Linked DNA regions of Homo sapiens. The protein of the gene in region 3 interacts with the protein of the main gene of each other region in a pairwise test. Each region holds a gene or a part of one and is shown on either strand. Other genes may lie near its edges.

Region 1 (7,190 bases), on a different chromosome or scaffold from region 3:
GGGTTTGAGTCACACACCATGGGCCTTCCTTCCTTGGTGCTGAAGTACTGGTGTGCAGGTCCAACAGATCTGAAGGTCAACATTCAAAGTCATTTGGCACTGTTTACACTTGCATATCGTGTTGTATTACACCTTGATTTTTAAATATTTTAGTAGTGTATGACTGGGGCATACACAGTTGAATCTTGTCCTGCATTCTCATCCATTGCCAAGTTTTCATATGAACACTAGATGATAGGTAGTACTGCACACTAATCATTTTTTCTCTTTTGTCTTTTGTATGGTCTGTTATTTTTGACTGAGGATTTCTGGCACATTTAGGGTTATTTGATCCACTGCTACACGTTTTTTTTTTTTTTTGAGACGGTGTCTCGCTATGTCACCCAGGCTGGAGTTCAATGGCGTGATCTCGGCTCACTGCAACCTCTGCCTCCCAGGTTCAGGCGATTCTCCTGCCTTAGCCTCCCGAGTAGGTGGAACTGCAGGCGCCTGCCATGATGCCCAGCTAATTTTTATATTTTTAATAGAGACGGGGTTTCACCATGTTGGCCAGGATGGTCTCGATCTCTTGACCTCGTGATCTGCCTGCCTCAGCCTCCCAAAGTGCTGAGATTACAGGCATGAGCCACTGCGCCCGGCTGCTACATGTTTGTTTAGGTCCACAGTGACATAAATTACTGTTAAGTATTCTGGACTCCAGCTTTAATCAGATTTTAGTATGGTTAAGCCAAGGTTTTGTTGAACATGTTGTAAGTTAAATTGAGCCACAACAGCTTTACAGTAATAACTTGCCTAGTGTTAAAAGCACTGTCAGATTAGTATACTAGTCTGAAATTTTGAGGGGTATGCTGCTTCTCTTTTTTAACGTTACCCTCCTTTTGAATATATGCTGCTTAGGTTTTGCTAATTAGACTAGAGGATTTTTTTGTATTCATTCATTCATTCATTCATTCATTCATGCATTCATGTTGAGCCGGAGGCTCGCTCTGTCACCTAGCCTGGAGTTCAGTGGCACGATGTTGGCTCACTGCAACCTCTTTCTCCTGGGTTCAAGCAATTCTTCTGTCTCAGCCTCCTGAGTAGCTGGGATTACAGGTGCGTGCCTTCATGTCCGGCTTTTTGTATTTTTAGTAGAGATGGGGTTTTGCCATGTTGGCCAGGTTGGTCTCGAACTCCTGACCTCAGGTGATCCACCCACCTCGGCCTGCCAGAGTGCTGGGATTACAGGTGTGAGCCGCTGCACCCGGCCTTTTTTTTTGTATTTAAATAGCGTGCAATTATTTGGTCAGTTGGAACTCTGCAACAGAATATGACCTTGGTCATAGAATCTTTGTAGAAGTCAGTGTTTTAACTCTGTTTAGATCTTGAATCTGGCACAGAGGGTGTTTGAAAGATTCTGAGATCCTGGCCTGTTGGGTGGCAGGTGATTCACCTTTGGCACACAGATGAGCTAGGTAGTGGGGCTGGCTGAGGAAGTAGGGTCCTGGGAATCAGAACATGGAAGGATATGAATGGTGATGTTGGATCTTGCTGCTCAGTGACCCAGGCCTTTTTTTCCCTTTTTAAAAATTTTTTGAGACGGAGTTTCGCTCTTGTTGCCCAGGCTGGAGTGCAATGGTGCGATCTCGGCTCACCACAACCTCTGCCTCCCAGGTTCCAGTGATTCTCCTGCCGCAGCCTCCTGAGTAGCTGGGATTACAGTCAAGTACCACAATGCCCGGCTAATTTTGTATTTTTAGTAGCGTTGGGGTTTCTCCATGTTGGCCAGGCTGGTCTCGAACTTCTGACCTCAGGTGATCTGCCCACCTCCCAAAGTGCTGGGATTACAGGCATGAGCCACCACGCCTGGCCTTTCTCCTTTACTTCACATACTTGCTCAGTCTTGTCACTGTCAGTCCACGTTGTGGACACTGTGATCTTTATTTTTCTATCTCTAGAGGTTCGTTTGTATTATGCTATCAGGATTTTTATTCTAAAACTTACTTTAATGAGTATTTTTACAATTTTAATTTTGAGACAGTCTTGTTCTGTCGCCCAGGCTGGACTGCAGTGGTGTGATCATAGCTCACTGTAGCCTTGAACTCCTGGCCTCAAGCAGTTGTCACGCCTCAGCCTCTGGAGTAGCTGGGTCTATCTGTGGCTGCACGCCACTACGCCTGGCTATCTGGATTTTAGAACTTTGTGTATTTCATTGTAGAGGAAAGGGAGGTTTTACAGTTAAAACCAGTATTCATCTCACCAGTTGGCAGCTCTGAAGCCATTCTCGTGGTTAATGATGTTAGTTTCAAAAGCATAGTTGATTTCTGGATTTAGAATGTGATCTATATCCTTTATTCTTTCCAAGATATCGGAAACTGGCACTGAAGTGGCATCCAGATAAAAATCCTGAGAATAAAGAAGAAGCAGAGAGAAAATTCAAGCAAGTAGCGGAGGCATATGAAGTGCTGTCGGATGGTGAGTGACAGCGAGCTGCTGAAGGACCCTGAGCGGGCATGCCGGAATGCGGAGTGGGTGTTGGGATCCTCCTCAGGGTAGCACAGTATGGACTCAAGTGACTTGTTTTTGATGCCTACTGGATTTTGGGCCCTTCTAAGAGATTTTTACTTTTCTCGTGAAGATTTGAATTGATTTAGGTAACCACGAGTGCTGGGGAGCTCCAGGGCTTCTAGTAGTTTCTCCTAGGATGGCTGTTTTAAAAGCGGGACTAGACATCCTGGGTTTGAGGAACCTGGGAGAGAGGAGGTTGCGGGACTCAGGTCACTGTGCATGTGGCGTGCTTGCCCCCGTTGTGTGTGATCATTCTGACCTTGCTCACCCCCACTGGCTTAAACAATACCATTCCAGTGGAGTCAGCTTTACTGCTTGAGAGGATGTCATTAGTTCCCAAAAAGAGGGGATGGAACATACAGCTAAAATTTAGATTTCCAGTTTCAGGCCTGTTTTCCCCTCCTAGGTCTGGAGCAGAGGTGTTCTATGTTACTGGAAGTCAGATCCATTGGCCTAGTTCACAAATGGGTGAGGGGTCAGAGGTCAGCTGTCGCCTAGATGCAGTCAGGGTTCCATGGGGGAAGTAAAGGCTGTGCATGGGGCCTGGGGTGGGGGAACAGTGACAGAACTGGAAAGCCACACAGTGCCCCTGTCTGCTGCAGTGCTGGGTGGCCTGTTGTGAGCAAAGGCCGAGGCTTTTCCAAGGTTAGGGATGGACTAACTGAACCCTGGAAGTGGGCACTTGGTTAAGTGTATCTGCATGTGGTCAGGTAATTGGCCCTTATTTACAACAAAAAAAATTTTTTTTTTTTTTAAAGAACCCAATTTGAGGCAGAGGTTGCAGTGAGCCGAGATTGCGCCACTGCACTCCAGCCTGGGCGACAGTGCGAGACTGTCTCCAAAAAACAAAACAAAACCAAACCAATCAGAAGGAACCCAGTGTAAGCTTGCCACCTTCAACAGCTACCAGCACACCACCAGCCTTGCTTTCTCTGGTGACACTGTGGCCCACCCCCTTTGTTTTAGAGGAAATTCCAAACATTTTACTTCAAAAAATATGAAAAGACATAAAAACACCGATATTTGAAGTCTTCTTGAAATGTGGCATTTAAGGTCTTGAACTGTTGAGCTTATTCATTGGAAAGTTTATTTTTTTTAAAGAGAGAGGATCTTGCTATGTTTCCTAGGGAGGCCTTGAACTCCTGGGTTGAGGTGATCGTCCTCTCTCCTCAAGTTCCAAGCACCATTGCGCCAGGCTTGTTCCCTTAGATTTGTGCGCTGGGAGTGACAGAGGAGGGCACAGGCCTCAGTGTTACCATCTTGGTCTTCGGTCCTTGTTGTTTGTGTGCTAATTCAGTATTGCCAGATTCAGGATTTTAGGGACTAGTAACATTAGGAAAAGTGAGGGCCAAAATGAAGCTTCATATTTGATAGAGCAGCTTTAAACTACCACACTGAAAAGTCGCTTGGTTCTTTTGGGAGGTGTATGAGGTGTGTTTTTCATGTCCTTTTAGGCAGCCTTCAGTGCCAGCTGGAGTTGTCTTCAAAACATGGTCATTGTTCTTGCCATGGCACTGGCTACCTGAAACTGCTTGCAAGTGGTTTGTTTCTAAGCTCGTTTTCCCATTTTGTGGAATGTGAGATTTTCTTCTACTTTTTAAAAATTGAGAAGGGGTCTCACTCTGTTGCCCAGGCTGGAATGTAGTGGCATGATCACAGTTCGCTGCAGTCTTGACCTCCCAGGCTCAAGCGATTCTCCCATCTCGGCTTCCTGAGTAACTGGGACCACGGGTGGGTGCCACTGTGCCCAGCTAACTTTTTTGTATTGTGTTTAAAGGTGGGATTTTGCCGTGTTGCCCAGGCTGGTCTTGAACTCCTGGGCTTAAGTGATCCACCTTCCTTGCCCACGCAAAGTGTTGGGATTATAGGCGTTAGCCACTGCATCCAGCCTATGAGATTTTTTGAGGAACGCAGATGGTGTCATGTCAGAAGTACCAGTGCTTCTAATGTCATTGTTTTTGTTCTGGGATATAAGTAGCATTTGGAATGTAAGTGTGAAGACTGTCAGTGGAGAGGGGCACACTAGCCCCAGGCCTTGCATCCGGGTGGTCCACTTCGAGGGTGAATGAGCCTGTAGGGTGTTAGGTTGGCGCCTTTCTGGCACATCTGCTTTCTCCCACTTGCCTAGGCCCTGGCATGTTTGTTTTCGTGCTGCAGATATGGTCCTCTAATTGGGTTTTTGTAGTAAGATGGTGCACTTCTGTGGTTGCAATAATCTTGTACTTGGTCGTGTGATTTTAATGTAGCATGTCTGGGCTCTGTGCAGTAGAGTGAAAGAAACGATCTAATGGAATAAAGAAAAAAATTTTTTTTTGCTTTTGAGATGGAGTTTTGCTCGTTGCCCAGGCTTGAGTGCAATGGTGCAATCTGGGCTCACTGCAACTTCTGCCTCCTGGGTTCAAGCGATTCTCCTGCTTCAGTCCCCTGAGTAGCTGGGATCACAGGCATGCGCCACCATGCCTGGCTAATTTTGTATTTTTAGTAGAGACTGGGTTTCTCCGTGTTGGCCAGGCTGCTCTCGAACTCCTGACCTCAGGTGATCGGCCCTTCTCGGCCTCTGAAAGTGCTGGGATTACAGGTATGAGCTACCTCGCGTGGCTAAGTCCCCCCCGCGCCTACTCTTGTTGCCCAGGCTGGAGTGCAATGGCACGATCTTGGCTCACCACAAACTCCGCCTCCCGGGTTCCAGCTATTCTCTTGCCTCAGCCTCCTGAGTAGCTGGGATTACAAGTGCCTGCCACCACGCCTGGCTAATTATTGTATTTTTACAAGAGATGAGGTTTCACCATATTGGCCAGGCTGGTCTCAAACTCCTGACCTCAGGTGATCTGCCCACCTTGGCCTCCCAAAGTGGTGGGATTACAGGTGTGAGCCACCATGCCTGGCCGTAAATACTTAAATATTTCTAATAACTTGTAAAAATTCAACATACTGAATTTTTTTTGAATTGTTTTTCAGGAGAGAGGTACAGAAAGTTTTCCCTGTTGCTTTGTTTTGTTTTAAAGAAAAGGTGGCCATACTCCTTGAAATTCAGTTGTAAAACATCGAAAACTGATTTACAACTGGGGAAATACCTTATCTATTGAATTAAGGGTTTAAAAGGAACTTGGCCTTACCGACTTTTCTTTCAATTTTTAGCTAAGAAACGGGACATCTATGACAAATATGGCAAAGAAGGATTAAATGGTGGAGGAGGAGGTAAGTACGTGAGTTTTTTCTTTGAAGACAAAAGGTCTTGGCAAGTAAGTTGAGTTTGTAAATCACGAGTCTCTTGGTCAGAGTCGATTTTGTATCAGTAAATAGAGATGCAACGTAGAAAGCGAACTAAATTGGGGAGAGGACAGAGAAATTGATGGCATTTAAAAGTCTTTTACGAGACTAGAAGTATATGTTGATGTATTTTTTATAGATAGAAACAATTTGTAACCATACTGCAATATATTGTGAACATATACCCTTAGATCAGCACTTGACGTTATGTCAAAATATCCTAAGGGTTTAAAGAGCAGATTTTCCTGAAAAGCTAAAATAATGACTTTGAAGGGCGTGGACTTTGTCCCCAAAAGTTCCCACGGTCACTGGGCTGTGACCAGCCTCCCCAGGGGTGTTGGGAAATTATTGCTCCAAACCCACTGGGGCCACGCGGCAGCTTCTGTGGCTCCAGGAGGCCAGTCGTCGAAGTGGATGCAGATACTCTTGGTCTTCATAAACCTTCATAACAAATCATAAAAATGGTGTGTAATGTTACATGTTATATGCCGATCACGGATTTAGAGATGGTGAAAAGTAGTGTCGAAGGGGCCACTGCTGCACTCATATGCCATCAGCGCTGGGCACACTCACTCTCTGTCAGTACAGGGCTCATGTTTTGAATTATAGAGAACTTCAGGTTTATGAAATATTTTTGTTTTTATTAGTTCATGATTTGTATAATGTTTTGTCAACAAAGAATTCTTTGCCTACAAAGCACCAAAATTCATAAACTAAAAGCTGTGTTGTATTTGTGCAGGTGGAAGTCATTTTGACAGTCCATTTGAATTTGGCTTCACATTCCGTAACCCAGATGATGTCTTCAGGGAATTTTTTGGTGGAAGGGACCCATTTTCATTTGACTTCTTTGGTAAGTTAATCACGTGGGTTGACTTGGTGTGTGTCCATGACCCAAATGAGGGCTTACTTAGTATGGCCTTTCTGTTGAATTAACATTGTATTTTAGGCTGGGCGCGGTGGCTCATGCCTGTAATCCCAGCACTTTGGGAGCCTGAGGCGGGCAGATCACCTGAGGTTGGGAGTTCAAGACCAGCCTGACCAACATGGAGAAGCCACGTCTCTATTAAAATACAAAATTAGCCGGGCATGGTGGCGCATGCCTGTAATCCCAGCTACTTGGGAGGCTGAGGCAGGAGAATCACTTGAACCCGGGAGGCAGAGGTTGCGGTGAACTGAGATCATGCCATTGCATTGTTGTCTGGGCAACAAGAGTGAAACTCCTGTCTCAAAAAAAAAAAAGTTAACATTGTATTTTGTCACGAAACTTTGTGTTTAAAGCAGCATTGGACTAGCCTGAACAACATGGTGAAACCCTGTCTCAACAACAACAAAAAAAATACTAAAAATTAGCTGAGTGTGGTGGCGTGTGCCTG
Region 2 (7,190 bases), on a different chromosome or scaffold from region 3:
ACATTGGTATTATTAAGCACTTGAGGCTGTCTTTTGTTAATCCAGAATGTGCTTATTTAGTCAGTGAGTTTTTCCTTTCTTCCTAGACCTATATCTTGCTCCTAGAGTTGGTTAGGGTTACATCATCACTGTCAGCAGTCCTCATTTTATGGTTATTTAGGTGCCACATCTCTCAATTACCAAAGAGATCAGTACAATGTGAGGCAAAGTACCTTTTTTTTTAAAAGCTATAAGATATCAGATTTCTTTCATTTAGCCAATATTTTGGTTTTAGAGGGAGGTTTTTAAAAAGTCACCGAGAACTGAGGATCATGTGTGTATAGAAACACTGTAATCTGATAGATGAGTCTTAACTAGCAATGTCTTTGCTTATCATTTATTCTGACAGTGATCACCTGCATTAATTATCCTAATAGGCGATATCAAGTGTTTATACTGAGGCCATAAGTAGAATGTTCATTGAGTTTGTTATCAGGGCTGCTGATCATGAAATTAAACTGTAGTTGTGCACATGTGTATTGTTTCATTAACTTGCCTGCCTATTCAGCCTTCTGCAGTAATGTAGCTTCTCAGAGCACAGGAGAAAAATGTATCTGAGAGTTATTCGAGAGAGAGTTCAACAATAGCCCATATTTCCGAACATAAATCTAGTGAGCCGCATTAAAGTTTCTTCATGTCTGGATGGAATAGTGTCACTTGCATAGGTCTGAGGGTTTCATTATTTGCCTGCCCCAGATTTGGACTCCGTTTTTCAGGTGAAAGAATCCTTGGATAACTGTTTCATTTTCATAGGAAACCTCTTTGGTTTCGGGATCCAAAGTAATATGTAGGTTCAATATTTTGTAGGTTTTATAATCAAATGTCTCCCTAAAGAGATGACATAGGGAAGAAAAGCCTAATGTATCATCTTAATGGATTCAGTTTTTATTATGCACAAATAACTGGGCTTGTAACCTAGGAATATGATTAGAGCGTGATGCTGGCTTAAAAAATAGGACTGGTGAATCACAGTTTGTGAATAATAAACTACTGGTTGGAAATATTTCCCAGAAGCAGTTTTTTTTTTCCTTTCTATCTTTACCTATATCCCATGTTTGGTTTCAAACTTCCCTGCCTTAGAGCAACACAGCTGGTTTTAGACAGTCTTTCTATCAATATCTTATAATCTTTGCTCATGTACAAACATACAGCAAATACAACGGTATAAAAATACGATGTTATCTATTTTTGTTCACTTTTTCCCCACAGAACATCTTCTGTAACCCGGTAGAAAATGTTCTGAGTACACCATCACATTTGTCACTTTAGTAGCACCTTAGTAAACCATCATCCATGTAAAAAAACATTGAGCTTCTCAGCCGGGCTTGGTGGTTTGCGCCTGTAATCCCAGCACTTTAGGAGGCCAAGGCGGGTGAATCACTTGAGGTCAGGCGTTCGAGAGCAGCCTGGCCAACATGGCAAAACTCCGTCTGTACTAAAAATACAAAAATTAGCTGGGCAAGGTGGCATGCACCTGTAATCCCAGCTACTCGGGAGGCCGAGGCAGGAGAATCGCTTGAACCTGGGAGGTAGAGGTTGCAGTGAGCTGAGATCACACCACTGCACTGCAGCCTTGGCAACAGAGCGAGACTCTGTCTCAAAAAGAAAAACAAAAAACAAAAAACATTGAGCTTCTGTGCCCAGCCGTGGGTTGGGGACTGGGGTTATAACTGATCAGGGTTGATGTGGTAATAAGCCGAGCTTTGCCTGCCAGTCATCTTGCTGTGGCCATAGGGATCATAAAGAAAGGGGTATTTTCATTTTTTCAATTATTTTATGTTTGGTGCTTTCTGTATGATAACAGGGGAAGATATTTTTTTTTGAGGCATTATCTCAAAGTAATCATATTCATTGTAGAAAAGTTAGAAAGGATAGATAAGCCTAAATTAAAAAATAAAAAACAAGCCTTCTATTATCTTATTTTCCAAACATTACCTCTATGAAGATTTTAAACAATTTTATTGAGATATAATTCACCTATCATCACAATTCACCCATTTAAAGTGTACAATTCGGTGGGTTTTAGTATATTGACAGAATTCTGCAGTCATCACCACAGTCCATTTTAGAACATTTTCATCATCCCAGAAATAAACTTCATACCTATTAGCTGTTACACACCGTTTCCCCCCAAACCTCCTAGTCCTTGGCAACCACAAATCTACTTTCTGTCTATAAATTTGCCTATTCTGGACCTCTTATATAAATGGAATCATACATTATGTGGTCTTTTGTAACTGGCCTCTTTAACTTAGCATCATGTTCTCAAGGTTCATCCATGTTGTATAATAACATGTGTCAGTACTTTGTTCCTTTTTATTGCTGAATAATATTCCATTATATGAATATACCACATTTTATTTATCCATTGTATTAGTCCATTTTCATGCTGCTGATAAAGACATACCCGAGACTGGGCAATTTACAAAAGAAGTAGGTTTAATGGACTTACAGTTCCACGTGGCTGGGGAGGCCTCACAATCATGAAAAAAGGTAAGGAGGAGCAAGTCACATCTTACGTTGATGGCAGCAGGGAAAGAGAGAGCTTGTGCAGGGAGCTTCCCATTTTTAATACCATCAAATCTCGTGAGACTTATTCACTATCACAAGAACAGCACGGGAAAGACCCATCCCCATGATTCAGTTGTCTCCCACGGGGTCCCTCCAACAGCACATGGGAATAGTGGGAGCTACAAGATGAGATTTGGGTGGGGACACAGAGCCAAACCATATCATCCATCCATTGAGGGACATTTGGATTGTTTCTGCTTTGGGACTATTAATAATTCTGCCATGAACATTTGTGTACAAATTTTTGCGTGGACATTTATTTTCACTCTTCTTGGGCATATATCTAGGAAAGAGATTGTTGGGTCATATGGTAACTCTTTGTTTAACCTTTCAAGGAACTGTCTGACTGTTTTCCAAGGCAGCTGCACTATTTTACATTCCCACCTGCAATGTAGGAAGGAGGGTTACAGTGTCTCTTATACCCTCACTGATACTCGTTATTACCTATCTTTTTAATCTTAGCCATCCTGGTGGATGTGGAGTGGTAACTCATTATAGCTTTGATTTGCATTTCTCTAATAACTAATCTAATATCTTGACATATGTTCTTTCAGATGCTTTTTCTGTGCACATATTTACAGGTAATACTTTTCTTCCCCACACTGGAACATATAGATCTATGTCAATCAGCTTAATTCTGCAACATTATTCTTAATTGGCTGCGTAGTATTTCTCTGAATGGAATGGATGTACCATAATTTGACCACTCAATCATTTAGATATTGAGGCTGTTTTTATTTTTTTTTATTTTTTCACTACACAGATATGTTTTTATTTTCATTATAAAAATTATAACAATGTAATGAACTTTCTTGTTGCTAAACTCTTGAATGAGTTTTAAGTGCTTAGTTATTTCCTGGAGATAGATTCCTAGAATTGAAATTTGCTGATTGTATGTAGTATTTTACAGCCCTCTCCCCCAGCCCTAAGCAATGTTGAGTGTTTTAAAAACAAAACTAACCTTAAATTGTTTTTATGATAGGCGGTTTAAAGTATGCTATTTTCTTTTATCAGTGGCCACTTTCTTTTAGGAGCGTAGACTTTAAAAGTTGGATGAAAATAGAATGTTTACATTTTGTTTATATTTTGAAGATGTAAATAAACCAAGGCAGTCTCTGGATGATACCCTTTGTACCTAAAAGCTATTGAGAAAATGTTTTATTTGGATTTGTTAAATGACTCATTTGTGGGGTCCTTTAGTTTGCAGTGGTTTCAGATCAACTTTCTAGGAGATGTGGCACCCATGAGCACCCTGAAATACCTCGGGATAATTCTCTGGTTTTGAGGGTGGCCCGCCTCCTACAGATAAGATTCTTTGTATGGTCGGTTGTGAGGCCATTTAAAACTTTTGCCTTAAGACTTCATAAATCAGAGTTGATACATTGATTGTCCCTTTTGGAGGCTGCAGTTCTTAAAACATGTGGCTGTTTTTCCTAGGAATATTTAAGTACCACTTGATAATAAAGTACTACCTTTTGCTGGGATTATCTACCTGGAAAAAAAAAGGGAACAAAAAATTAAAAATAAAATGTAATATCTGTGGTGTTTTATTTTTTGTTTTGTTTTGCTTTTCCTGCAAATTTATTCTTCCAAAAAAAATGTCCCTTTCAAAATAATCACCCTTTGGCGTGAATTTACGGGTTATTGAAATCAGTCTTAAAAAAATTTCCAGTTAAATTTAACAACTTATCTAACCCATTTAATAATTCAACTTTAAAACAAAAACGAACCTTTGAAAACAAATATTTACTCTTAAGCCAGTTATCCTTATACAAGTTAAAACATTCTCCAATTCCTTCCAGTCTTTGCTTAATAGGACTTTTACATGATTCACACTACACTTTTGATCAAAATTGTTATTACCCAGTTTGATCACACAATTTATTGAGGACACTTGGATTTGGTTTTCAGCTATTTATTAAAATGAAATCCATCCTAAAGTGAACAGGATTTTTACCATTTAGGGGATTCAAAAGTATATTCTTTGAAGGGAATTTCCAAAGAATTCCAGAAATATTTTGAGCCCTAGAAGCATGTATGAATAGATGTGTAGCCTCCCAAGATAACTGGAATCAGAGTGCATTAGACTGCTTGATGGGCTCTCGGCCATGTAGTCCAATGAGTCTCAATTTTTTCCCCTTCCAGCTGCACATAAGAAATATGGCGCACATCCCTCAGTAACAGTATGAGCACATCAGAACCTAGGAGGGTGGTGTTTGGGGCACCCTCTCTCAGGCATTACCCTCCTCTCCCAAGCTGAGAAAAATTACTACCCTGCTCTGTCTTCCAGAGCAGACAGATGGGAAAAGGCAACCAGCAAGGGCTGGTAACCTGTCCAGGGTCATGTGTGAGTGGCAGAACCAAACCTTAAACTTGATCCTCCTACCTCCCTTTGAAGAGAAGCCCCTGCAGTGCTTATGTTCTGGTGCGTATGTTGGGACAAACCAGTCTGGCTACCCTCAGTCATACCCTGAGGAGCTGACCAAACTATGTGGCCATGAGAGAAGGATCTAGAGAAGGTCTAGGCCAGTAGGCTTTCTTGTAAGCTTCAGGAAAATACCCAGATAATGTTATTTTTCCTCCGTTAAGAATCATGGCCTTCTACCCTTTGTTGCAGTTGTGCGAAGATGCCATTTTGAGATGGGAATGCTGCCTTCACCTGAGAGTCTCCATCAAGGAAATTGGCCATTTTCAACTGTAGAGTCAAATCCAGCAATCATGGAGAGAGTAGGGATTAAAAGCCTGCTCGGCTGGGCACAGTGGCTCACGCCTGTAATTCCAGCACTTCAGGAAGCTGAGGCGGGCGGATCATAAGGTCAGGAGTTCAAGACCAGCCTGGCCAACATGGTGAAACCCCATCTCTACAAAAATACAAAAATTAGCCAGGCATGGTGGCGGGCACCTGTAATCCCAGCTACTCATGAGGCTGAGGCAGAAGAATCGCTTGAACCTGGGAGGCGGAGGTTGCAGTGAGCTGAGATCCTGCCATTGCACTCCAGCCTGGGCAACAGAGACTCCGTCTCAACAACAACAACAAAAAATTGCCTGCTAAGCCTAATTCACAGTTTAAGCTAATTTCTTTGCTTGGAGTCTAATAATATCCAAGCAGGTGCATGTTTTCAGTAACATCTCGCCTAGTCATATGTCTGAAAGAACAAAACTGAAAGTTCTTTCCTTAGAGGCCTTTAACCCAAGCCGCTCTTCTCTAGCTCAGTCACAGCCTTCACCAAGAAGTCCTGAAAAGATAGAACTCTTGCATTACCGTGCTGGTTCTGGGTGTTTGCCTTTGCAGAGGCGCCACCTGCCAAGCAGTTCTGGCACCAGGGAGCAGGTCTGTGATGACAGGAGAGAGACAGTGGCTGTGACTCTGGCTCTTAAACCACAATGGAGGGATTCAAGTTAGCTTAGGTAGCTCTCAGAGGAGACTAATGAGGGAAGGAAGGAGCAAGGGGGGAAGGAAGGTGCCCCTGGGAGTGTGTCTCACTTCCCTTGCTGGTTCATCCGAGAAGGCAGGGACCCTGGCTTGCTGATGGTTGCATCCTCTGTGGCATTTAACGTGGCATGCTGGTTATACCCACTGTAGGGGGCACTCAGCAAATATTTATTGAATTCTTCTTTGAGACTCATTAAGACCAATAAAGGGGCTGTATTATATCATCAAGCAAGTGGGTTGTGGATGGGGGTGGGAGGTATTGCTTCAGCTATATTTTATATTCTTTAATGGGATTGCACCAGTTGTGTGTCTTTCTACAGAACTAGAGGAGCTTTCAGGATATTTGCTTGGGTGGACGTGACCCATAGTGTGTAGTGTTCTTTTGGTGGGCTCTTCTTATCAGTAATGAGATTAATTTTTCCATTGCCAAACTCCATGAGGTAAACAGTTTGTGATTATTTCATGTCAGTTTCATTTTTCACTCAGCATGATGTTTCACTGTTAAAAAAATGAACCTTGGCCCAGAGTTGTCCTCTCATGTATTAAACATGACTTCCTTTGTTAGTAGACTAATTTATAATTATAATTCAAAACCATCCCATTCTCCAGTGGATTATTTCCCCCCTCTCTGTCAGATGAAGGAATAATTGTTTGTCTGGGCTGCAGGAGTGTCTGTCATGGAAACCGAATTTTTCTGTACATTCTCTGAACAAACAGTGCTGTCACATCCCTAGAACCTGACATTGTCATTGATCTCCAGTTGAGTCAGAGAAGTTTGTTGACCAAGGTAAATCAGATCTCTCTTCTCTTAAAGCAAATGGCCCATGACTCCTGAGGGGCCACTAGGAGTGAGAGAATCACCTGTACAGGGGGCCACAACTGTGGCTAGGAATGTGTTACTTGAGGCGGTGCTTCCCAGCCATGACTCAGTCACCTGGGGAGCTTTTTAAAAACGCTGTGCTGGGGCCCCATCCTATGTGAATGAAATTGGAATCTCTGGGAGTGGGGGCCGGCATCTTTTCTTTTTTAAAAAAAAAATGTTTAAGGCCAGGCTCAGTGGCTTACACCTGTAATCCCAGCACTTTGGGAGGCCAAGACAAGAGGATCACTTGAAGTCAGGAGTTTGAGACCAGACTGGGCAACAATG
Region 3 (8,001 bases):
GAGACTGATGCAAGAGGGGAAGCAGATATTCTATTTGGGCTTTGGCACAGGAGAGGGAAGACTCAGTCCTCTTTAAAAGAAATTCAGATAGAAAGGCCTTACACAAAATACTTAGTTAGACTTATTCTTATCCTGATTTTCTCTGCATCTGTACCAAACACATACAATTTAAAAATTGAGAGTAGGCCCACTCAGAGTTCCAAATTTACACCTTGAGAAAACATTGTCACTATTCTGAGTCCTCTATCCTAGTATGTATCCTCTAATTTTCAGATAAAATGATTACCTGGTGAATGGATAACCTTACAATTTAGTGAGTTCCCCAAGATTAGAAGTGTTGAAACACAAACTGAATAAAGATATTTTTATTATTACTTGGAGGAAGAATCCAAAAACTCTGTAATTGCCTGCCATGCCCACTGCCCCCTCCTGAGATGAGGCAAGGTTCTTTTGTTTGCTTTGATTTCAGCTATAAGTATCAACTCTAAAAACCAAAAAGAGATAAGACACAGAAAAGAAGAAGAAATTCTAACATATGTTTAGTTAGAACCTGAGAAGGAAAGGGGGAGAGAATGATACGGGGGCTTTTTGAAGGTATAATGACTGAAGATTTTCCTGAACTAATAATAGATATCCATCCATAAATTTTAAAACTCTACAAATCCCAAGCAGACAAATAAAACACATTTATATATCTTACACTAAAATTACAGAAAGCCAAAAACAAAACAGTCAGAGGAAGACAAGGCAGATTACCATCAAGGGAGACGAGCTAATCAAGACTGTATGATACTGGCACAGGAATATAAAAAATCAGTGGAAGAGAATAAAGAGTTCATAAACATACCCATGCACATATAGACACTAGGTATATTTGAAGACCAATGAGAACACAATAGACCTTCCAATATATGGTATTGATAAACTGGGTATTAATAAGGAGGGGGGAATCTGACTCTTACCTCATAACATATACAAAAACCAGTTGCAACTATATAAAATATCTAAACATGAAAGTGAAACTTATGGCTTTAAGCATAAATATAGGAGAGTATCTGCATGACCTTGGGACAGGGAAGGATTTATTTAAAAAGATACAAAAAGCACTAACCATAAAGAAAAAATATTGATAAACTCAGCTTTTTAAAAATTAGAACTTATCATAAAATCATCTTACAGGAAATGATGAAATAGTCCAAATAGTAGGAAAACAATCAATAAAGGACTGAGATCCAGATTACATAAATAACTCATACGAATCAATAAGAGCTATTCCAAGAGAAAAATGAGTAAAGATTTGAACTGACATGTCACAAAAGATGACTAAAAACCAATAAACATATGGAATATGTTCAATTTTATTATTAATCACGGAAACCCAAATTCAAACCTGTGGGGGTGGGCGGGTATAAGTACAGATATATATTCAAATGAGGATTTAAAAGTCTGGCATGTCTGATTTGTATATCATAGTTTTTGCAAACATCAAAAATGTATTTCCCAAGACCATTTGATGACATGGGAGAATATTTCTGACACTTCTTTTTGCAAAAATGTAGAACATCAAATGGTAAATGAAATAAAATTTGGTTTTTGACAAATAATGAAAATACATTAAAATATTAACCCTAGTTATCTGAGTGGCTAAATTTTATTTTTTCTTGGTAATGCTGTGTTTTTGAGATCTCTAAATTAATCATCCTTTTATTTTTAAATCAGAATAAATATTTGAGAAGAAAATTCAGCAAGCATAAGTGGAGCAACCATCCTTTTCTGTGATGGGAAAATTATAGGGACCTATAATTAAATGACATTCCTTTAAGCAAGAATTTTCAGAAGAAAAAGAGGAAACCCCAACACACCTTGGATACTGCTTGTAGAAGTTCATCATGCATTCTTTCCTCCTCTTCTGGGTGACACCTGGAGAAAGGTAAAATTGGGAGAGGGAAGAGTAACTGTGAGACACCAGGTTTTTCTTGGTACCCAGATTAGTCAAGTAAGAGTTCTTCCCCAGCCCCATTACCCACCACACATGAGGAATGGAGATCAGAGGAGAATGGGGCATTCTGTCCAATTCCAGTGGCTCAGGGGAAAGGTTGTGTTCACTGCTGTCCAGGGTTGGAATCTGACCAGACCTCAGAGAGGTTTCCTAGAGACAGAGTTCTGGAGTCACAATCGCATAGTTGACAGGACCCCATACTCATACACAGAATGCCACATACATTTAGGGACAGTCACACTTAAGGCGACATGCACGTCTCACCTGCCCACAAGGAGCCACACACGGCAACACAGTTACAATCACATACACACCATAGGAAACACACAATTACAGCTGCACAATCGTAGGCACCCCACACTGTCGCAGAGTCACAATCACACATCACCACGGGAACACACAGCCACAACCCCCACAGTGACAGGTATCCCATATCCGCACATAAGCCGCAGTGTTATTATCTCCCAGACAATTTCACAACCTCCCCTCTTTTTTTGGGGGGGTGGGGTGGGGTGGGGACAGAGTCTTGCCCTGTCGCCAGGCTGGAGTGCAGTGGTGCGATCTCGGCTCACTGCAACCTCCGCCTCCCGGGTTCAAGTGATTCTCCTGCCTCAGCCTGCGAGTAGCTGGGATTACAGGCGCGCGCCACCATGCCTAGCTAATTTTTGTATTTTTAGTAGAGATGGGGTTTCACCATGTTGGCCAGGATGGTCTCGATCTCTTGACCTCGTGATCCTCCTGCCTCGGCCTCCCAAACACAACCTCCACCTTTCAGGCCGCTCCGCCCGCAGGGGCCCAAGGCGCCAGCTCCCCATCGGTCTTCGGTATCCTCACCTAAGCCCTTTCCAGTCATCCCGGATGGGAACTTGCAGACCTGAGCCAGTTCTCCTGGGGACCAAAATATCTCACCTCCCAGATCTAAGGGTCCCGCCAGGAGTGACGAAACGTTCGAATTCCTGCGAGAAAAGTGGCAGGCCACCAGGCCCTCTGGGAAATGTAGTCCAGAGCGGGACCCACGCCGATTCCTGTCAGCTCCTCGCCTGGGCCCACCCGAAACGGCTGCTCCCTCAACTCTCAACATCCAGCCGAGCCTCGGAGTTGCGGGTCGCCGTAGCGCTGCGCAATGGAGATGAGCCTCCCGGGGAACCCGGCCCAAGCCTCACCCTCACACAGGAAAGCAGATGTGTTCTGGCCGGAAGTTGAGTGGGGCCGCGGGGCCTGCTGGGAGGTGTTGTCCTCGGAAACGTCGCTGGCGCGGAGGGATGGTTCGGCGCTTTAGGCGTCTGTCACAGACCTATCTGCGGGTCGCCTTCACCCAGCATCTCAGAAACTGCGCGCGGGATGAACATTCGGGTGTTTCCGGCAGGTGACGCTGCCGAGTCCCCGCAGCAGGGGGCGAGCAAGGGACTCGCGGTTGACGGGACACGGATCCTCTAAGGCCCAGAGTGTCCCGAGTAGCGGCAGTGGGGAGTGCTCAGGGTACGCTAATGGTGAGTGGTTGCAGTTGATGGGACAAAAAACTGTGATGGGAGTTAGTGTGGGTGTGTGGTTGTGTGTGTGAGTGTGACGGCACGAATAATCTGATGGGGTGATTGTGATATTTGGTTGCGCGGGATTATGATGAAATGTGTGATATGTGTGTGATTATGATTAAGGCTGTAGCGAGTGTGAACGTGGCGAAGTGTGCGTGATTGTAATATGTCTAGTAGTTCTTGTCTTGAGCTGGCTTTTCTGTAGCATTTGGCACAGTTGGTAACGGCTTGAAAAACACTTATTTGTTTTCTACTGATCCTCCCTCCTTGTTGGCCACTCCTCTGTAGTCTTCTTTGCTGTCTTTTTTACCCTAGTAGCCCTTGGCCCTTTGTAATTTTCCACTATTCCTTGGCGAACTTTTCAGGTTCATTATTATCTTATGACTTGCTGCTTTTATGTATGTTAGTTAGCTATTGCCATGATAATAATTATGTCTAAAAACCACCCCTGAACTCAATGCCATACAACAGCAAGTCCTTACTCTCCTGTTCACAGGCTTGCGCATTGACTGTGTTCAGCTGATCTAGGTGGGGCTTGGCTGAGTGGATAGGCTGCGTGACGAGTTAAGATCTGCGCCGCATGTGTTCTTTCAGGGTCTCAGGCCAAAAGGACATTTGTTGCCAGGGCATGCTCTGCTCCTGATGGGTCACCAGAGCGCAAGAGAGATTGCCTCAACCAGAGCAAGTCACATGGCTAAGCCTAAAATCAATTATGCCCACAGTTGGAGAGCAAAGTTACCTCGCAAAGAGTATGAATAATAATCTATTAGAGGGTGTGAGGAATTGGACTAAAATTCCAGTCTACCACCTTAAGAAACATACCTCTTTATCCTGGTGAATGCCTTTTAGTCCGGGTTCTCTTTTGTCTGATAATATTGCTTTTCAAGTTTTATTGTATTTCTTAAGAATTTCATTTTCTAACCCCCTTGTGTCTTTATGTTTCAGATCTGTGTCTTGTAAAGAGCATATTGCTGGGCTTACATCCGTTTATCTTGTTTGACTGTTATTTTAATAGGTGAGTATAGTTCAGTGGCATTTATCATGATTGCTCATAAAAAATGTTTTATTTTCTATTACGCCTTAAACATTTTTGATTGACATATAATAGTTGCACATATATCTTTTTTTATTGTGCAAATTCACCTTATCCCTTTTTCTCCCCTAGGTTGGTTTCTGCTATTATCCTTTTTTAATATGCATGCTTAACAAAACTCAACCTTAAGACTTTAAAATACTTGAACTCCAAAATATCCACCAATTTCTGTGTTATTCTTGTCTCATATATTATTTTCTTCTAGTTTTTGTTGTTGTTGTTGTTTTGTTTTGTTTTTTTGAGACGGAGTCTCGCTCTGTCACCCAGGCTGGAGTGCAGTGGCACGGTCTCGGCTCACTGCAAACTCCGCCTCCCGAGTTCAAGCGATTCTCCTGCCTCAGCCTCCCGAGTAGCTGGGACTACAGACGCGCCACCACGCCCGGCTGATTTTTTGTATTTTTAGCAGAGACAGGGTTTCACCATGTTAGCCACCATGGTAGATCTCCTGACCTCGTGATTTGCCGACCTCAGCCTCCCAAAGTGCTGGGATTACAGGCGTAAGCCACCATGCCCAGCCTATTCTCTTCTAGTTTTAAATCCCCAAATTAGTAGTAGTAGCTCATTTATTCTATATACAGTTCGTATCCAGGAGGGGTTGGTTTCAAGACCCCCCATGGATACCAGAATCCACAGATGCTCAAGTCCCTACATCCTTCTTTATACATTAAATCATCTCTAGATTATTTGTAATACCTAATATAATGTAAATGCTGTGTAAATCATTGTTACACGTTATTGTTTAGGGAATAATGAGAAAAAAATCTGTACTGTACGTGTTCAGTACAGACACAACTGTAGTAGGCCTAACTGTATTTTTTATCTGAGGCTGATTGAATCTGAGGATGCAGAACCTGTGGATAAGGAGGACCAACTATGTATACACACATGTATATTTAATTGTGGTAAAATACACAACATAGAATTTACCATCTAAACCATATATAAGTGTACAGTTCAGTGGCATGAAGTACATTCACATTGTTATGGTACCGTCACCACCATCCAGCCAGAGAACTCTTCTTCTTGCAAAACAGAAACCCAGTACCTATCAAACAATAACTCTGTACCCCCCTTTCCCCCGGCCTATGGCATCTACCATTCTACTTTCTGTCTCTGAATTTGACTATTCTAAATACTTCATATAAGCAGAATCATATGTTGTTTGTGCTTTTGTGACCCTGATTTAACTTAGCATAACGTCCTCAAGATTCATCCATGTTAGCATGTATTGGAATTTCCTCCTTTTTTAAGGCCGAATGATAAGTATGTCATATATGGATAAATATTTTGTTTATCAATTTATTCATCATTGGACACTTGGGCTGCTTCTACCTTTTGGCAATTGCAAGTGACACTGCTACAAACATGGGTATACAACTATCTGAGTCCCTGCTTTCAGTTTTTTATATATACATGTGGTAATGTCTGTTTTTAATCTTTGATTGTCATAGTGTTTTCGATAATGACTGAACCATTTTATCAGCATATTTTTGAGCACCTACTATGAATATCAAAAACAGACAAAAATAAGTCCTTGTTTTCATGGAGTTTATGTTGAGGGGGGTGGGTGGACAGTATATATAACTAAATTATAGTCATGTGCCATATATGTATGGACTATATACATACATGACAGTGGTCCTGTAAGACAGTGGTCCCCAGCCTTTTTGGCACCAGGGAGTGGTTTTGTGGAAGACAATTTTTCCAGGGACTGGGGGATGGGAGGGTTATGGTTTCAGGATGAAACTGTTGTCCCTCAAATCATGAGGCATTAGATTCCTATAAGGAGCAAGCAACCTATATCCCTCGCATGCACAGTTCAGAAGAGGGTTCACACTCCTGTAAGGCTGTAATGCCACCACTAATCTGATAGAAGGTGGAGCTCAGGCGGTAATGCTCACTCACCTGCTGCTCACTTCCTGCTGTGTGGCCTGGTTCCTAACCAGGAACCAGTACTGTACCAGTACCGGTACGTGGCCCAGGGGTTGAGGACCCCTGCTGTAAGATTATAATGGAGCTGAAAAATTCCTGTCACCTAGTGACTTTCTAGCCAATATAACACTGTAGCACAATACCATTACTCATGTGTTTGCAGTGATGCTGCTGTAAACAAACCTACTCTGCTGCCAGTCATATAAAAGTATAACATAAAATTATGTACAGTACATAATACTTGGTAATGATAATAAATATGTTACTGGTTCATGTGCCTACTATACTATACTTTTTATCATTACTTTGGAGCATATGCCTATTTATTTAAAAAAAGTTAACTGTAAAACAGCCTCAGGTCCTTCAGGAGGTATTCCAGAAGAAGGCATTGTTATCATAGAATGTGATAGCTCTGTGTGTGTTATTGTCCCTGAAGATCTTCCAGTGGGGCCAGATGTGGAGGTGAAAGCCAGCACCAATGATCCTGGACACTGTGTAGGCCTAGGCTAATGGGTGTTTGTGTCTTAATTTTTAACAAGAAAGTTTAAAAAGTTAAAAAATTTTTAAGAAGATAGCTTATAGAATAAGGATATAAAGAAAAAATATTTTTGTACAGCTGTACAATGCATTTTAAGCTATGTGCTACTACAAGAGTCAAAAAGTTTTAAAAAATTGAAAAGCTGGCTGGACACAGTGGCTCACCCCTATAATCCCAGCACTTTGGGAGGCCGAGGCGGGTGGATTACAGGAGGTCAAGAGTTAGAGACCAGGCTGACCAACATGGTGAAACCCCGTCTCTACTAAAAATACAAAAATTAGCCGGGTGTGGTGGCAGACACCTGTAATCCCAGCTACTTGGGAGGCTGAGGCAGGAGAATCACTTGAACCCAGGAGGCTTAGGTTGCAGTTAGCCAAGATGGTGCCATTACTCCAGCCTGGGTGACAGAGTGAGACTCCATCTAAAAAAAAAAAAAAATGAAAAGCTTATAAAGTAACAAAGTTATAGTAAGCTAAGGCTAATTCAACAATTTGAAGAAATAAAAATTTTATAAATTTAGTGTAGCCTAAGTGTACAGTGTTTATAAAGTCTACAGTAGTGTACAGTAGTGTCCTAGGCCTTTGCGTTCACTCGCCACTCACTCAGAGCAACTTCCAGTTCTGCAAGTTTCATTCATGGTAAGTGCCCTTTACCAGTGTACCATTTTTTATCTTTTATATTATATTTTTACCATTTCTCTCCTGTGTTTAGGTATGTTTAGATATACAAACACCTACCTTTGTATTGCAGTTGTCTACAGTATTCAGTACAGTAACATGCCATACAGGTTCGTAGCCTAGGAGCAATAGGCTATACCATATAGCATAGGTGGGTAGTAGGCTATACCATCCACATTTGTGTAAGTACACTTATATTTGCACAATGATGAAATTGCCTAATGACACAT
Region 4 (7,190 bases), on a different chromosome or scaffold from region 3:
CCTCTCTTCATCCCAGCTTCCACTTCTGATAGCTTTGAGCCCAGTGATTTTGCCTTAGGGTGGGGCTGAATTCCTACTCCAAGCCCTGCAAGTCCCAGCTCCAGCTGCTATCACTAGTTCAGCCTTGGAGCCTTAGGCACCATGTTCTCCACTGGCCTGAGACAATGCCATCCTCCCTGGGCAGGCATCCTCCCTCCCGCCCCAGCCAGCCTTCGGGTGGCAGAGCAACACACCTGACTTCAGGTGGTTGCATGTGTTTCCCCTCTCCCACACTTGTCTTTTTGCCACTCCTCTTCCCCCTTCCCCCTTCCCCTTTCCCCCAGCCCTCATTTGAAACCCTGAGCAGAATTTTCTGGCTTCTCCCCAAGAAGCTGTTCACTCCATTGCCCTGAATTCTGCAGCTGACAAACATCTATTGTCACCTCTGGTCCACTGGCATGCTTCTCTACCCACCCCATTGGGCTGTGGCTTCCTTCAGAGCAGGCTCTGTTTCTCCATCGTCTCTGAGTCCAGCCCAGGATCTGACTCACATGAACTGCCCAGGAAACATGGAGTTTTGGAGCATTGATCTGAGACTCCCAGGTCCAAAGACACTCCTTAGCACAGGGCCAGAAGTCCAGGAGAGTCTGGGGAGGATCCCTGGGGGGTTGAGATGTCTGAGCTGCGATTTCCTGCTTTATTCCTTTTTACCCACTGCTGATTCCCTGTTAGCCAGGCTAAGTCACAGCGCACTGTCAGAGCCTGGAAGAAGGGGAGCAGTGTCTGGCAGAGGATCTAGCCAGACTTGTGGGCCCTTTTGGCCAGGTCACTAACTGGGCTGGGCTTTCTGTAGGTGCTCACCCACCCATCACACAGACCACCCCCCCCACCGCAAGAGATGGAAGAACAAGATCAGCTGGGTTGGGGGCCCAGACCTGGCTCACTGGGGTTGGGCAGGGCAGTCTGGGATGCTGTCCAGATCCATCCTCGCATCATTCCCCAGGGCAGGAGCAGCCCGTAGTTGGCACTGACACCCCACTGTTGCCAGAGAAGTGAACCCTAGAGGCAGGATCAGACAGGCAGAGGGCCGTCATTCATCCATCAGCAGCAGGGGCAGAGAAGGAGGTGCTTTTAAGGGGCCCATTCACTCTGCAGCCTATGGGGAGGAACCCTTTACTGTCTCATGGAAACTCATCACTGCACAAAGAAGCCCCTGAAGGAAGGTGCCTCACTGTCTACCAGTGTGTCCCAGGAACCATATTGCAGAATTCTGGTCATTAGGGCAGCAATGAATTATGTCTCTTATCCAAAGCCATCTTTTATCCTTCCAAATCTCTCCACAAGAGTACACCCTTCAGGTCCGGAGATCAGCTAGATTCTGGAGCCCCAGCTGAGAACAGTTTATAAATTAAGACTGACCAGGAGACAACAATATCAATAACAGGACTATTTCATCTTAGATCTATCCTTTATGGCTTAAAAGCACTTTCACGTACATTAGCTCTTTAATCCTATGAAAGGCAGGGTTTGCTACCCCCATTTTACAGGAGAAGAAACTGTACAATTTAAGCAATATTATTATAAGTTCTGCCTTCCTATTGTCACTGGCCAAGTGAGGGACAAGAAGAGGAAACGAATGGAAAAGGGAGTGAAAGGGAAGGGAGAGAACGACCCAGGAGAAAGAAGCAGAGTGGACATGGAAGACTGATTTTAGCTCCTAGTCTGCCATCAGATTTGTATGTGACCTTGGACCAGCTGCTCCACTCTCTGGGACTCAGTTTCCTCATTCATAAATGGGAAGTCACAAAATTGAAGCCACACAGAAGCCTTCTGTGGTGAACGCTGCTGGTGAACTGAGAGGCACAGCATGCGTATAGAAGGGTGGAGTTGGGGGTTCTTCCTAGACTCTAGCCACACTTTGGGGCCCCCAAAGAATATGGGTTTCCTCTTGGGAATTCCTCTGGAAGTATAAGATAGCGAGGTCATAACATTTTAGATGTGCCTATTTGAGGCCAGTTGTTCCCCCATTTAATTCTCTCTGTGTTCCTCTCAGGTAGGAATTGTTATTTATGTCCTATGGATGAGGAGCAGAGGCTTGGAGAGATTCGGAGAGGAAGGACATCCACTGCATCCCCACCCCTGCCCCTAACACCCACATGAAACAAAATTCCCTGCCTGGGTTTTATAAGTAGGAGGGACTTATAAGAAGCTCAGGGCATGAATCATCTTCTGAGGAACCCTCTTTTAGAATTCTAGTCATTAGGGCAGCACTGAATTATGTCTCTCATCCAAAACCATCTTTTATCCTTCCAAATCTCTCCCTAAGAGTGCCCCCTTCAGGTCCAGAGATCAATCAGATTCTGGAGCCCCAGCTGGGAACAATCTCTAAATTAAGAGTCACCAGCAGCCAACAATATCAATAACAGGACTATTTCATCTTAGATCCATCCTTTATGGCTTAAAAGCACTTTCATATCTATTTTCTGTTTGATCCTATGAGAGATAGGGGTTACTACTCCCATTCTACAGAGGAAGAAACTGAGGCACAGAGGGAGGCTGATTTGCCCAAGTTTGCAGAGCTGGTCAGTGGCAGGGTCAGGGTAGAAACCCAGGTCTGTCTGATGCCAATATCACCGTATTTTCCTCTGCACTTTATCCCTTTCTGGGGACAGAGCACAATGAGGTCAGGGACGCCAAACAGGAACTTCCTAAATTCATAATTTTGCTGAGCTGAGCCCTAGAAATGGAGGGGTCCCAGGGTAGAGAACAACACAGGGGCAGAACAATACAGATACTAGGGACCAACTTGGGGACAGGCATGGGGCGCACATACTAGAGGCACAATGCCTATGAACCCTTTCTTCCAGGGGCTGCCCAAACTGCCCGTGCCCCCGCTGCAGCAGACCCTGGCCACGTACCTGCAGTGCATGCGACACTTGGTGTCTGAGGAGCAGTTCAGGAAGAGCCAGGCCATTGTGCAGCAGTTTGGGGCCCCTGGTGGCCTCGGCGAGACCCTGCAGCAGAAACTCCTGGAGCGGCAGGAGAAGACAGCCAACTGGGTAAGAGGGGCAGACAAGGAACCCATAGAAGAGGGGCGGGAGGCAGACCTGGAGACAGAGGGATCTCGGTGAGAGGCAGGTAGGGGACAAAGACAGGGCAGAAGGAGAGATGAGGGACAGGGATGGGGGATAGGTGTGGGAACAGGCAGGTGGCATGGATTGGAGGACAGGAAGGGACAAGGATGAGAAACAAACAAGATGAGGAATGGGAAATACGGATAGAGAAAGAGGCGGACAAATCGGGGACAGGAATTGGGACAGATGAGGACAGAGATCGCATTAGGAAAGAAGAGAGGGTGAAAGGCAGGAAGAAGACACCTGTAAGGACAGGCAGAGGACAGCGATGTAGCACCAAGCCACCAGGATGGGGACTGGGACAGAAGAAAGGAGACAGGAGGGCACAAAGGTGAAGGACAGGCCTGGTGGACTGGGAAGCTCCTGGCACATACCTGGGGCTTAGCATATATTTGTGGAATGAATGAATTAATGCTCTGGTGAAGTGTCCCGATTTTCTCTCGGGGCTGTCAGGATGGGACTGTTTGGGGGGATGTGACGGCCTTCCCTGCCCTCCCCGGCAGGTGTCTGAGTACTGGCTGAATGACATGTATCTCAACAACCGCCTGGCCCTGCCTGTCAACTCCAGCCCTGCCGTGATCTTTGCTCGGCAGCACTTCCCTGGCACCGATGACCAGCTGAGGTGAGGCCTTGGTGCTCCTAGCTCATAACCTGGGGACCCACCCAAGGCAGGGGCCCTTACCCCAGTGCCAGCAAAGAAAGGCCAAAGCTGGAGCCTCGGCTGAGCTTCCTGGGGTCAAATGCCCCGAGACAGTGGACGTCCAGGCCATCAGGTGGGGAGCAAGGTTAGGTGTGGCTGCACTCGAGTGACAATCACACAATTAGCCTTAGTCTATATTTATCTTGCAGTGGAATGGACACTCATGGAGGTCATGGGTCCAAATATCCCCACAGCCTCCACCTGGCTGAGGCCCTGGGAGGAGGCGTGTGTCCCTGGACCACGCCAGTACTTGTCCCTGGGAAACACTGCCCCAGGCTGTCTGAGAGGGCCTCTGCTTCCTTCCAGAGCCCCCAGCTCTAAACAGAGGCCCCAGAAGGCTGGAAACAATTCCTCCCTGCCAGCAGCCAGAGCCTGTGCCATCTGCTGTAATTTCAGAGCTCACTGAGCCGTTGGAAGGGCCTCTGGCCGCTAATGACAATGGAGGATGGGTGCAGGGAGAAAGGGTTTCCCTTCTGGAGTCACTCAGAGTCTGGTCTTAAGACCTGAGTGGGGCAAATGGTGGGGACGGTTTAGAGGGAGGGCAGACCAAAGTGGCCCGAGGACAAGAGGCAGGGCCCACCTCTCCTCTGGGCAGGGCTTAGCCATGCTAGGAAGACCTCCCCACCCCACCCTACCAGCTGGCCAGCCTTCCCTCCCACTGTAGCTGGGGTCTCCCCAGGGAAGAAGGAAGGTGTGGACAGATGAATGACTTCTGAAAACAGTTCTCACAATTGCATCTGAGGGGGTATTTTCCTCCTGGTGCAATTAAGCCAGGCCCAGAATCCTGGTATGACAGTTCCCGCTGCTCGTTTCTCCAGTGCCTTTCCCCAAGCACTCGATTTCCTTTTCATTAGTACCGGGGGGTGGGAGGAAAGGGACCAAATTACTGGCTTTTCCCAGGAGAAAATTTTCCACAAGGCCAGGGGTCCTGCCCTGTCCAGACCCAGGGCTGGCTTTTCCAAGGAAGAACTCCACCCTTCACCCTCCACCCCTTCTGGCCTGCTCTGTGGCCTCTCCTAGCTTCCGTCTCCCTCTCTGCTCCCTCTCCTCTTCAAGATGATTCCAGTTTCCTCTCCCTTCCCCAAGAGCTACTCGACCCCCAGTTCTCACCAAAGGACCATTTTGAATCCAAGGCTTGTGGTGGGCTCTCGGCATGGGGCTGGGGGGCAAGAACCACATCTGATTAGTGCAGGAACCACATCTGATTAGTGCACACGGGGGCGGCATACAATGGGCGATCACAGAGTTTGGCAGTGGGGATGAGGGAGGGAGGAGGGAGGGAGAAGGGAGGGAAGAGGAAGGAGATGGAAGGAAGAGGGAAGGAGGGAGGGGAGGCAGAAGGGAGGGAGGGAGGGAGGAAGCCAGGCCCTGGGAGGAAGGGCTCAGGCCTCCCTTCTCCCTGCAGGTTTGCAGCCAGCCTCATCTCTGGTGTACTCAGCTACAAGGCCCTGCTGGACAGGTAGGACTGGGAGGGTGGTGCCCTGTTCCAGCACAGTCTGCCTATGCGTCTATCTCCCTTGCAGGGACCTTGTCTTTTTCCAGCTCTGTATTCCCATTCCTGGCTCCTGGCACAGAGCAGATGTCCCTGCCCCAACCCACTCCCCCACCATCAGGATGACCTTTAGCCTGGCTGGCCTGTCTGTTAACTGTTCCTTTTCCTGTGGCAAGCACCATCCTTCCTTGATCTTTTAAAAATGTCTCCTCCCTCCACACATACGTGCACAGGTGGAGTGAATTCACTTGAAGCTGGAGAACACATAGGAAGGCGGGGAAGGAAGAGTTGTTAGAGTAAGGTGATGGGAGTTCTGCTTTGCCACTTGGAGGAATGGTGTCTCCAGCGGGAGACTGTATCCTCAATCCCACCAAGCTCAGTGGACATGAGGCTGTTCTGACAGATGGAGAGGGCTGCTCAAGCACCGCAGGCTCTCTTTGATTTTAGGAAGAAAGTCCCTCTCCTGGCCAAGCTTAGGAGAGCAGGAGGGTGTCTGAGAGCAGCAGGGAGAGTAAGCGGGTCTGGAGGACCCAAGTCTCTCAAGGTAGAGACTATAAGGGCATTAGAAGCTGGAAGGAGAGAGAGAGGCCCAAAGAAGCATCCCTTGCACAGATGAGGAAGCTGCAGCTCAGAGAGGTTAAGTAACTCATCCATGGTTACACAGCCAGGTGGTGGCAGAGCAAGGAGGGGGCAAGGGGCAAACTTCACTCTTTGTTCAACTTGACTCAATTCAGTCTTTACCCAGCCTTGGGACAGAGGCTCAGACCCACAGCCCCTTCCAGGGTAGGGCTGTTCCCTCTGGAGAGGGGCAGGCAGAGCTCCCAGACTGTCAGGGTGGAGCAGTTCAGGCTGTCCAGGGCATTCTGCACCACACGCTCCTGTGTGCTCTGCTCACTCCTCTCTAAATGCCATGGGTCACTAGGCCCTGGGCTGTTGTCTCCTCATGGTGTGTCTTTGGTCTCTCCCTTCTTCGTGGACAGCATTCTATTTCCTCCCAGAACTCGCCCCTCCAGCTCACCGTCCTGTCTGTTTTCAAACACCATTGTCTTGCTGGGCCTGGGGACTTGGTGCCCATTCATCACTGACTGCCCCCACGAGACCACTTTCCTTCTGATCCCAGACTTTCACATGTGTGTGCACACTCACACAGACACGAATACCCATGCATATCCACGTGGAGGTTCCCATGTCCAATGATTGAAAAGGACTTAAGACTGGAACATTTTCCTGAGTGCCTGTTTTGAACCTTTAATTAATTAATTAATTAATTTACTTATTCACTTTGCAATGTAGTTATGCTGGGAAGAGGAAGAGAAATAAGGCCTCATCCTCCCCTCAAAATGTCCTTAGACTATTGGGCAAGACAGTCACTTAAACAGACACAAAATACAGCTGTGTCCCTTCCCCTGAGTCCCACACTCGCTCATCCAAGCCTCAGCCATCCCCACCGGGGTGTCTCTCAGTCATTACAAATGAGCCAGGAGAGCTTCGCCTCTCCCTCCCCATTCCCCAACTCCTCCCATACCTTGTCGAGCCATGTCCGTAAGTGCACCAGCACATGCCCTGTTGGTGAGTCTGGGAACCTAGAAGTCACCTGTGCTTGTTCTGCTTTCTCCCTTGCACCTTCATGTAACCCATGGTGCTCAGATGTGGTCATTCTCCCTCCCCACTGTGTCCCCAAGCTCCCTCCTCCTTCCCTGCTGCCCTCACAAGACATCACGTTCCTTCTCTGCCACAACCTCCTTCCTTGTTCTTCCTGTGACACCTTTCAGTCCATTCTCCCCATATAAGCAGGGTCAGTAAAACAACAAAATGGAAACCCAGTCATGCCCCTGCGTGCTAAAGCCTCCCAAGGGCTTTCACTGCACCAAGAATAAGGCGATAG

What was found.
Region 1: the proteins of ZNF829 (region 3) and DNAJB6 interact in binary tests that used the Homo sapiens proteins (3 or more experiments, as listed by UniProt).
Region 2: the proteins of ZNF829 (region 3) and ERN1 interact in binary tests that used the Homo sapiens proteins (3 or more experiments, as listed by UniProt).
Region 4: the proteins of ZNF829 (region 3) and CHAT interact in binary tests that used the Homo sapiens proteins (3 or more experiments, as listed by UniProt).

Annotation. Positions count from the first base shown.
Region 1 is NC_000007.14:157,360,817-157,368,006, forward strand, and holds part of DNAJB6 (dnaJ homolog subfamily B member 6), read left to right. Parts: intron 1-2,344; coding exon 2,345-2,454; intron 2,455-5,685; coding exon 5,686-5,745; intron 5,746-6,556; coding exon 6,557-6,667; intron 6,668-7,190. UniProt on the Homo sapiens protein: Has a stimulatory effect on the ATPase activity of HSP70 in a dose-dependent and time-dependent manner and hence acts as a co-chaperone of HSP70. Plays an indispensable role in the organization of KRT8/KRT18 filaments.
Region 2 is NC_000017.11:64,119,955-64,127,144, reverse strand, and holds part of ERN1 (serine/threonine-protein kinase/endoribonuclease IRE1 precursor), read left to right. Parts: intron 1-7,190. UniProt on the Homo sapiens protein: Serine/threonine-protein kinase and endoribonuclease that acts as a key sensor for the endoplasmic reticulum unfolded protein response (UPR).
Region 3 is NC_000019.10:36,913,103-36,921,103, forward strand, and holds the start of ZNF829 (zinc finger protein 829), read right to left. Parts: upstream 3,190-8,001; 5' UTR 2,909-3,189; exon of another isoform or gene 2,853-2,908; coding exon of another isoform or gene 2,694-2,852; intron 2,150-2,693; coding exon of another isoform or gene 2,066-2,149; coding exon 2,028-2,065; intron 1,921-2,027; coding exon 1,863-1,920; intron 1-1,862. UniProt on the Homo sapiens protein: May be involved in transcriptional regulation.
Region 4 is NC_000010.11:49,616,879-49,624,068, forward strand, and holds part of CHAT (choline O-acetyltransferase), read left to right. Parts: intron 1-2,846; coding exon 2,847-3,038; intron 3,039-3,616; coding exon 3,617-3,735; intron 3,736-5,218; coding exon 5,219-5,272; intron 5,273-7,190. UniProt on the Homo sapiens protein: Catalyzes the reversible synthesis of acetylcholine (ACh) from acetyl CoA and choline at cholinergic synapses.